Homo sapiens: one gene and its partner. The protein of the gene in region 2 purifies or fractionates together with the protein of the main gene of each other region. This does not show direct contact. Each region holds a gene or a part of one and is shown on either strand. Other genes may lie near its edges.

The links.
Region 1: the proteins of PLEKHG6 (region 2) and BPIFA2 purify together in Homo sapiens (affinity purification with mass spectrometry; 2 studies listed by BioGRID and IntAct, with this or other methods). This does not show direct contact.

The regions. Positions count from the first base shown.
Region 1 is NC_000020.11:33,166,610-33,170,357, reverse strand, and holds the start of BPIFA2 (BPI fold-containing family A member 2 precursor), read right to left. Parts: upstream 2,200-3,748; 5' UTR 2,149-2,199; intron 1,228-2,148; 5' UTR 1,213-1,227; coding exon 1,056-1,212; intron 1-1,055. UniProt on the Homo sapiens protein: Has strong antibacterial activity against P.aeruginosa.
Region 2 is NC_000012.12:6,308,393-6,312,140, reverse strand, and holds the start of PLEKHG6 (pleckstrin homology domain-containing family G member 6), read right to left. Parts: upstream 1,460-3,748; 5' UTR 1,293-1,459; intron 1,142-1,292; exon of another isoform or gene 1,047-1,141; intron 1-1,046. UniProt on the Homo sapiens protein: Guanine nucleotide exchange factor activating the small GTPase RHOA, which, in turn, induces myosin filament formation. Also activates RHOG. Does not activate RAC1, or to a much lower extent than RHOA and RHOG.

The DNA of each region.
Region 1 (3,748 bases), on a different chromosome or scaffold from region 2:
TAATTCAAGTGAGAAACAACAGGGCAATTACTAACTTAAGGAAAAACAAAAGACTATACCGTATAAGAAAAGAGATGTAATCATAATATTGTAACTTGGCTCTGTAATGGACAATATCTACCTAGTTATAATGATTCAGAGAATGACACTTTAAATAAAATTGGTGATATAACTACGTCTAATCGTATAATTCACGAGGTGACTTTGGTTTAGACATTTCTGTCTCTGGGCCTCAGTTTTCTCAGCTGTGAAATTAGAGTGTGAGTCCTTTCTGCATCTTTGAAAGTTACCTAAGCCCTTGACAAGGTTTGAAAGGCAGCCATTTGCAGAAGTTACCTCCTCCTACAAAAACTGTTTTTGATGTGCTGCTAATGTTTCCATAAAACAAAAAGAAAGCCAAGTTATTTTAATAGGTTAGCATAAAAAGGAGGTATAAATAAATATAAAGGTAGGTAGCTTTACAGATACCAAGGCTAGGTAGGGATAATTTCCTTAATTTTCACTGAATTAACACAAGTCCATAAAAGAATATTAAACAACCCAAAAGAAAAATATGCTAAGAATATAGACAAAATCCTCAAGTTAAAATATGTAAGTACATAGTAAATATATGAAAAAAGAAGAGGGCTCCTTCATAATTAGAGGAATGCAAAGTGAAATAAGTTATAGCTTTTCATCTGTGAGACAGGCAGAATATTTAAAGTTGTCCATACCCAGTGCTGGAAAAGGAGTGGGAAAAAAGGCACTTTCGTAGACTGTTGGAGAAAGTGTTAACATAGGAGATTATTTGTCAACAGCATAGTTTTTGAACTTTTGAAATCCCACTTGTAGGAATTTATCTTATGCACGTTTATCAGGATATAATATGTAAAAGGCTATTCATTGTGGCATTGCTTGTTTCTAGAAAGATAAACGAATGAGTCAGGAATTGAATAGCCACTTTTCTCAGTAAACCGCCCATAAAGAGTAGCCCCTGGTGGCAGCCTCTGGTAATGCAGGCATAGTGTTTAGGAGGCTAATTTAGGTGACACTGTTCATCACCCTTGTTGATTTACCTTTAAGAGTATTGTCAACTGTCTCAAGTCCCTCGTGAAGAACAGGTTCCAGCTTATCCACGACATTGCTTAGGTCATTGCCAAGATTGTCAAGAAGAGACTCTGAGGTCCCAGTGAGCACGCCGCACAGGAGAACAAGTTTCCAAAGCTGAAGCATCTTTTGTCTTGACACCTGGACAGTCATGGGAAGAACAGGAGTGAGAATTGCCCAGAGGGAAATGGACTCTTCAGTGAGTTCCCATCACTCTTAACATTTAGCATTCCATTAAGATAGATGTGGTTATTTCCTATTTTACAAATGGGCAGCCAAGGTCAGAAAGCTACAGCAACTTGCCCGGAGACACACAGTCAGTGAGCAGAGGAGCTGGGATTTGAAAAGTCAGACTTGACTCCAAGCCCATACTCTTGACACAAAGTTCCTTTTCATACGCTGTCTTCTCTGCCTAAAATATTTTTCTTCTTCTTTACTTTTCCACTTAGGTCAATTCCTACATCATGCCCTCTGTGAAGCCTACTGTAGGCCCCTTCCCAGATTCTAGGTTGGAGGAGTCCCACCTTGCTGCCTTCATTATCCTGATCAAGGTCTTGGATAACACTTCCCTGATGATTTGACCACCTTTCCTACCAGGCTGTGAACTCCTTAGAGGAAGGACTGTGACTTATTTCACTGTCGAATCCTCAGGCGCCAGTAAAAAGCCTGCACCTAGTACAGTACAGTAAACGAATAAATCTTTGTTGAATATAAGTATGAACAAATCAATGGAGACCACCTCATGACCCTGCATTGTTCATTAGTTTGACACTTATTTTAATATAATCTATAGATCTCTAAATTTACTCTGATTTGCCATTTGTCTTGACACCTGGACAGTCATGGGAAGAACAGGAGTAAGAATTGCCCAGAGGGAAATGGAATCTTTAGTGAGTACTCATCACGAACTTGCCATTTAGAGCACATTTAGAGATATATTGATTATCTCTGCTGTATTCAAAATATTAGCTAACCCAAGCAATCCCACCCCTCTGCCTCTTGCCCCCAAAGCCTTCCAAAGACCACCACGTGTGGTGCCACTGGGGGGAGCACGCCACTCACGCGTTTAGAGGAGGATGCTCATGAAATCCTTGCCCCACTGCACAGTCTGCTGGGATTCTGCTGAATGGTGGCGGCTATTATATGGTGGAGATGGGATGGAAGGCTGCCCACAGAAGCAAGCCTTGGTTCTGGGATCATCCAAGGACACTCCAAGGAAAATAACCCCTCTCCAGGATGAGCAGAGAGAGAGATTTCCAACTCAAAGGTCACCCAGGATGCTTGAATTGAAACGGATGGCTATGGAGAGGGCTTTCCGCCAAGACTAAGACCAGGTCCTCATGGAGCCTGCAGCTACCGAGGGGGTGGTCCTTGGTCCTTGTGGGTGAGGACTGGGAGAAGACTGAGAATGAATGAATTGGAGAATGTCCTGGCAGGAGGACCCATAATGACCATCCGGTCTAACTCCGTCATCATTTGGAAACTGAGGCTCAGAGAGGGGAAGCCACCAGCCTGGGGTCATTCAGCAAGACAGGGACCGAGATGGGTCTAGAATTGTGGCCCACAAGGAGTCAGACAGCCTCCCAGGGGTCCTGCCCCCAGGGGTCTGCACCCGGCAGGTGCAGCAGATGCCTGGCAGCTGCTTGTGCTGACACTGGGCTTGGTGTCCCTAAAGGGCACTTTAGATGCACTTTTCTGTTAGTCTTTATGAAAACTCTGTAAGGCAGGTTTTCAGAGCTCCATTTTCCAGTTGAGAAAGCTGAAGTTCAGAGAGGGAGGTGGCTTGTCCATACTTGCAAGGACAGGAACCAGGCATTTGGGCCACCAGGGAAGACCCTTCCACCCATATCAGGCTGAGGTCAGTTAGCAGAGAGGGAGAGTCCCTGGGCCTGAGTATCCTGTTTTTGCTTCGGCCACTGATGTTTGGGTTGGTTGTAACGCCTGCTGCATTGGGCCTGTGTCAACCCGGAACAGCACAGGAAACTCGGGTGGGTGCCCACTTGGCCTCAGGCTGGGAAGGACTGGCACAGAGCTCAGGGTCACCATAGGTCTCTGCCCTTCTGCTCACCCACCTGCAATTCAGCAAGGACCTGGGGGGCCTGTCCTCAAAATGATGCAACCAAGCAAACGGTGGGACAAGACCAGTGGCTCCAGGAGCTGGCTGTTCCTACACTGACCATGGCTCCACTGTTACAGCACAGAGCTGGGCGGCTGCAGGAAGGTGATGGCCAGGCCCCAAGAGCCCAGACCATTAGACCCCTGCTGCAGTCTTGCCTGTGGTCTTGAATGGTTGTCACACCTCCTTCCCTGGCTGCCTGACACCGGGTTCTCCAAACGTCTGAGCCCCGCTCTTCCCCCAGTTGTGAAGCACAGAGCCAAGGGCTGTGCTGAAATCTTGTGAAGGCAGTTTGTCCCAGCCCAGGAACATAGCCCAGGGTGCTGAGCATGATGCAGTGACCTCGAGACCTGGTGTTGGCCCAGGCCTCAGTTGCCTCATCTGTAAAATGGGTAAACACGCTGTTCCTGGATCTCAGAGGCATGGTGGACAGGCAAGGACCTAGGAAATCAAAACGATGGTGAGGGGCTTTGAGGGCAGTGCTCAGAGCCTGGCACTGGGCTTGGGCTGTCCTGGGCATGAATACTCTCTCTCTGCTGGTTGCTG
Region 2 (3,748 bases):
GAATGGAAGGGCCATCCCCAATCAGTGAATGGCACCAGGCGGGAGACCAAGGCTGGTAGGGGGCCTGGGAGGGAGGGTATAGTGGGGGAGGAGAGGGCCAAGGGCTTGGTCACTTGTTGGGGGGAACATGGCTGCCTCATCTATGACTTGGTGGGAGTAGGGTAGGTCCAGGTACATATTGGGTAGGAAGCCCCTTGGAGATGTACCTCCTCTCTCACATGTGTGCATATTTGGGGTACAAGCTCCTGCACTGGTCTCAAATGGGAACAAGGGTCACAGACAGGTCTCGGGCTTTCTGGATACACCCAGGTGGGAGGGTTCTCCTTGCACCTAGATATAACCCCATCCCCTTCCCCATATAAAGCTTGGGAAAAAGCTGGAGGGAGGCCATGGTGGGTGGGGTGGGCTGGGAGTGGGGGTGGCTGGAGACAGCCCAGTCTGCCACCAGTTTTTGTACAGCCTGTAAGCCTTTACATATTTACATAGTTGAAACAACTGCTGCCCCCCCTGCAAAAAAGCCACCAATATTTTGGGACAAGTAAATATTACATGATATTCAAATTCAGTGTCCATAAACACAGTTTTGTTGGAATCCATCCTCTTCTGCTGGTCTCCTAATAACCTGTGACTGCTTCTTGCTAGTTGGGACAGACGGTGTAGGCCGCGAAGTCTCTAATCTTTACTGTCTGGCCTTTACTGAAAGGCTTGCCCATCTCCTACCTGAACCCTCCTGACCACAGACAGGGAGGTGAGTGGGGCCAGCTGTCCGGCCACTGCCCTTAGAGACCAGCCAAATAGAATTAGAGTTTCTCCAGTTTCGGGCTATATATTTGGTCCTCCCCAGACTCTGGGAATACCACCATGGAGCTGGGGGCCAGGCGTGGGGCTCCATCCCTCCCCCCTAAACCTGGAGGGAGGGCCCGCCCTCGAGTGGGCAGGGCCTGGAAGAGGAGAGGCCTCCTAAGGGGCGGTGGGCTCAAGAAGGCTGCGCAGGTGTTTGTGCCCCGACCGGGTGGGCCTGAGGTCCTGCCTCAGCCCTCCCTTACCTTCCTCCGATTCAGGAGCAGAGGAGGAAACGTTCGCTGTCCCTCCTGCCGCCTCCCAATAGTCCTCCCTCTGAGGGCGCTGTCTCCCTCGCACTGCTCCCTACCCAGGGTCCTGTCTCAGCCCAGCCCCCGGCTCCCCTCCTCCCGCCTTCGGGAGGCCAGGCCTTCCTTCCCCTTCGCCCCGGCTTCCAGGCCCCGGGTCCCGGCCGCCCCGCCCCCGGGCCGCGTAGCCCTCCCGCCGCTCACCTGTGCCCACAGGTGTCACCGCACCCGCTGCCCTGCGCCGCCCTCCCCGCCCGCGGGGCTCCCCGTCGCCGTCGGCTCCCCGGCGATGCCAGCCAGCCCCGATGCCCAGCCTGGGACTGGGATCGAGCGGCCCGCGGGAGCCGGGCAGCGCGGGTCCGGGCGAGGAGGGCGGGGACCGGGCTGGCCCCTCCCTACCGCCAGCACCGCTCGGGGCAGAGGGGCAGAGGGGCGGGGCCCTGGGGACCGAGCAGCCCCCGCCCTCACGCAGCCACCGCCTTCCCCGGAGAGGACAGCTCACGTGGCGGTGCCCTCCTTTCCCCTTTTCGGTCGCACCTGAACTCGACACCCGCCGGCCGAGCGGGAGGGCTGGGACCGCGCGCCCTCCACTCCGGGCCAGACCCCCGCGAGGCGCTGCAGTAATGAGGGCTGAGTAAGGGGCGGGGCGCCGCCGGGGGAGGCGGCGAGGGTGACAACCTGTGGCAGGCACCCCTCTCTCCTGCTGGTCGCGGCGAGTGGCCGGCCGTCCGGTCCTCCCCCTGCCTCGGCCTAGACCCCTAAGCAGGCAGGGAGCCCGCCTGCCAGCTGGAGGGGCAGGGGGCCCCGTCGCTGTGTGGAGTCCAAAGTGTGAGCCTTATCTCTCAGAGGACCGGCTGGCCTGCCTGGTGGAAGGTGATACTGGAAGGCTATCCTGGACTTTGCCTTTGCTCCAGGGATAGGCAGCTGAGGCCTGACCCGCACTTCTCCTATGACCTAAGACTCAGGTGGGGGCACCCTCCCAGTTCACCTGCAAATAAGCCCACTCCCGGCTACACCAGGGTCACCCAGCCCTTGCGGTGGCTGCTAAAATAGATGCTGTGGGGCCAGGCGCGATGGCTCACGCCTGTAATCCCAACACTTTGGGAGGCCGAGGCGGGCGGATCACAAGGTCGGGAGATGGAGACCAGCCTGGCCAATATGGTGAAACCCCGACTCTACTAAAAATACAAAAATTAGCTGGGCATGGTGACGGGCGCCTGTAGTCCCAGCTACTTGGGAGGCTGAGGCGGGAGAATCGCTTGAACCTGGGAGGTGGAGGTTGCAGTGAGCCAAGACAGCACTACTGCACTCCAGCCTGGGCAACAGAGTGAAACTCCATCTCAAAAAAAAAAAAAAAAAAAAAGAAAGAAAAAGAAAAAGATGCTGTGGAAGGACTGACACATGCTGGGCATTGCATGAAAGGACCATACTTTATTTTCTTTATTTTTAAAATTTATTTTTTAAAAAGAAAATAGAGACAATATCTTGCTGTGTGGCCCAGGATGGACTCCAACTCCTGGGTTCAAGCGATCCTCCTGCTTCGGTTTCCCCACCTTTTCACTTCTCCAAATCATGGCACCTCGTCTGACAGAAGCACTGGATATTTGAGATAGAAGTGTCCTGTGGATGTGTGGTCATTATAATCTCACAACCATGAAACCCAAGACCCTGTAGTTGGCAGGTGGCAGGTCTGAGGCTCCCAGCCCCTCACCCTGACTGTGGTCTATTTCCTGCCAATGAACTCAACAGTGATTGATACGGCTCCTTACTTCTTCAGAGCATCCTGAAGTTCAGGAAACACTTTCAGAAGCAGAATCTCCTTGAGTTGCCAGGGGAAAAGGCCTCTATTCCCTTTTCCCATCTAGGCTATGAAACGCATACATGATCAGAGTGTTCTAGTCCTCACTCGGACTCTGGTGACTCTATTTTGTTTGGAGGAGGAATCTATATCTTTGGGCAGTTTCTAATTTTGTATTCCCTGTGTCCATCCTCAAATCTGCCCTCTGGGATTCTCTTTCTCTGAGCTTGCTGTTGTGTGATTGCTCTGCTGGTTCAGAAGTGTCCTCTGTTCCTCCAGCTCCTTGAACCAGCCTGTCTCCTGCTCCTGGCCCAGCTGGTGGTGGGACTAGTTTTCGGGGGTGAAGTCAGGTGGGAAAGGAACTGCAGTGGCAAGAAACCAGAGTGTGCCTAGTTCCTAGCCCTTCCCTCTTCCCATTCACTGTGTGTGTGTGTGTGTGTGTGTGTGTGTGTGTGTGTGTGTGTGTGTGTGTGTGTGGTGAGAGCTAGACAGAGATAGAGAGATGTCCAGGGATGACAAGAGTAGCCATGAGGGAAAGAGTTAATAAGCCAGGAGAGGAGGTGGTGATTACGGACAGTATTAAATGACACCCCAGAGACAGCTGGTGCCAATGGCCCCTAGCTTCTCCTCCCAGTGTCTCCCAGAAGGAGTGGGAAGGAGGAATAAGAGGGAAGATGAAATTGAGAGAGCACCAAAGACAAGCCTGGGCTTACAGTGCTCTGGGGTGAGCTGGCTAGAGGGGCCCAGTGGCAGGTGGTGGTGGGTGGCGGGGTGGTTAACCCTTTCACTTCCCTCTAGGCGTTGAGGTCCAGTCTCCACCCACTACTGCCCCAGGGCCTGTCTTCAGCCTCCCTGGGAGGAG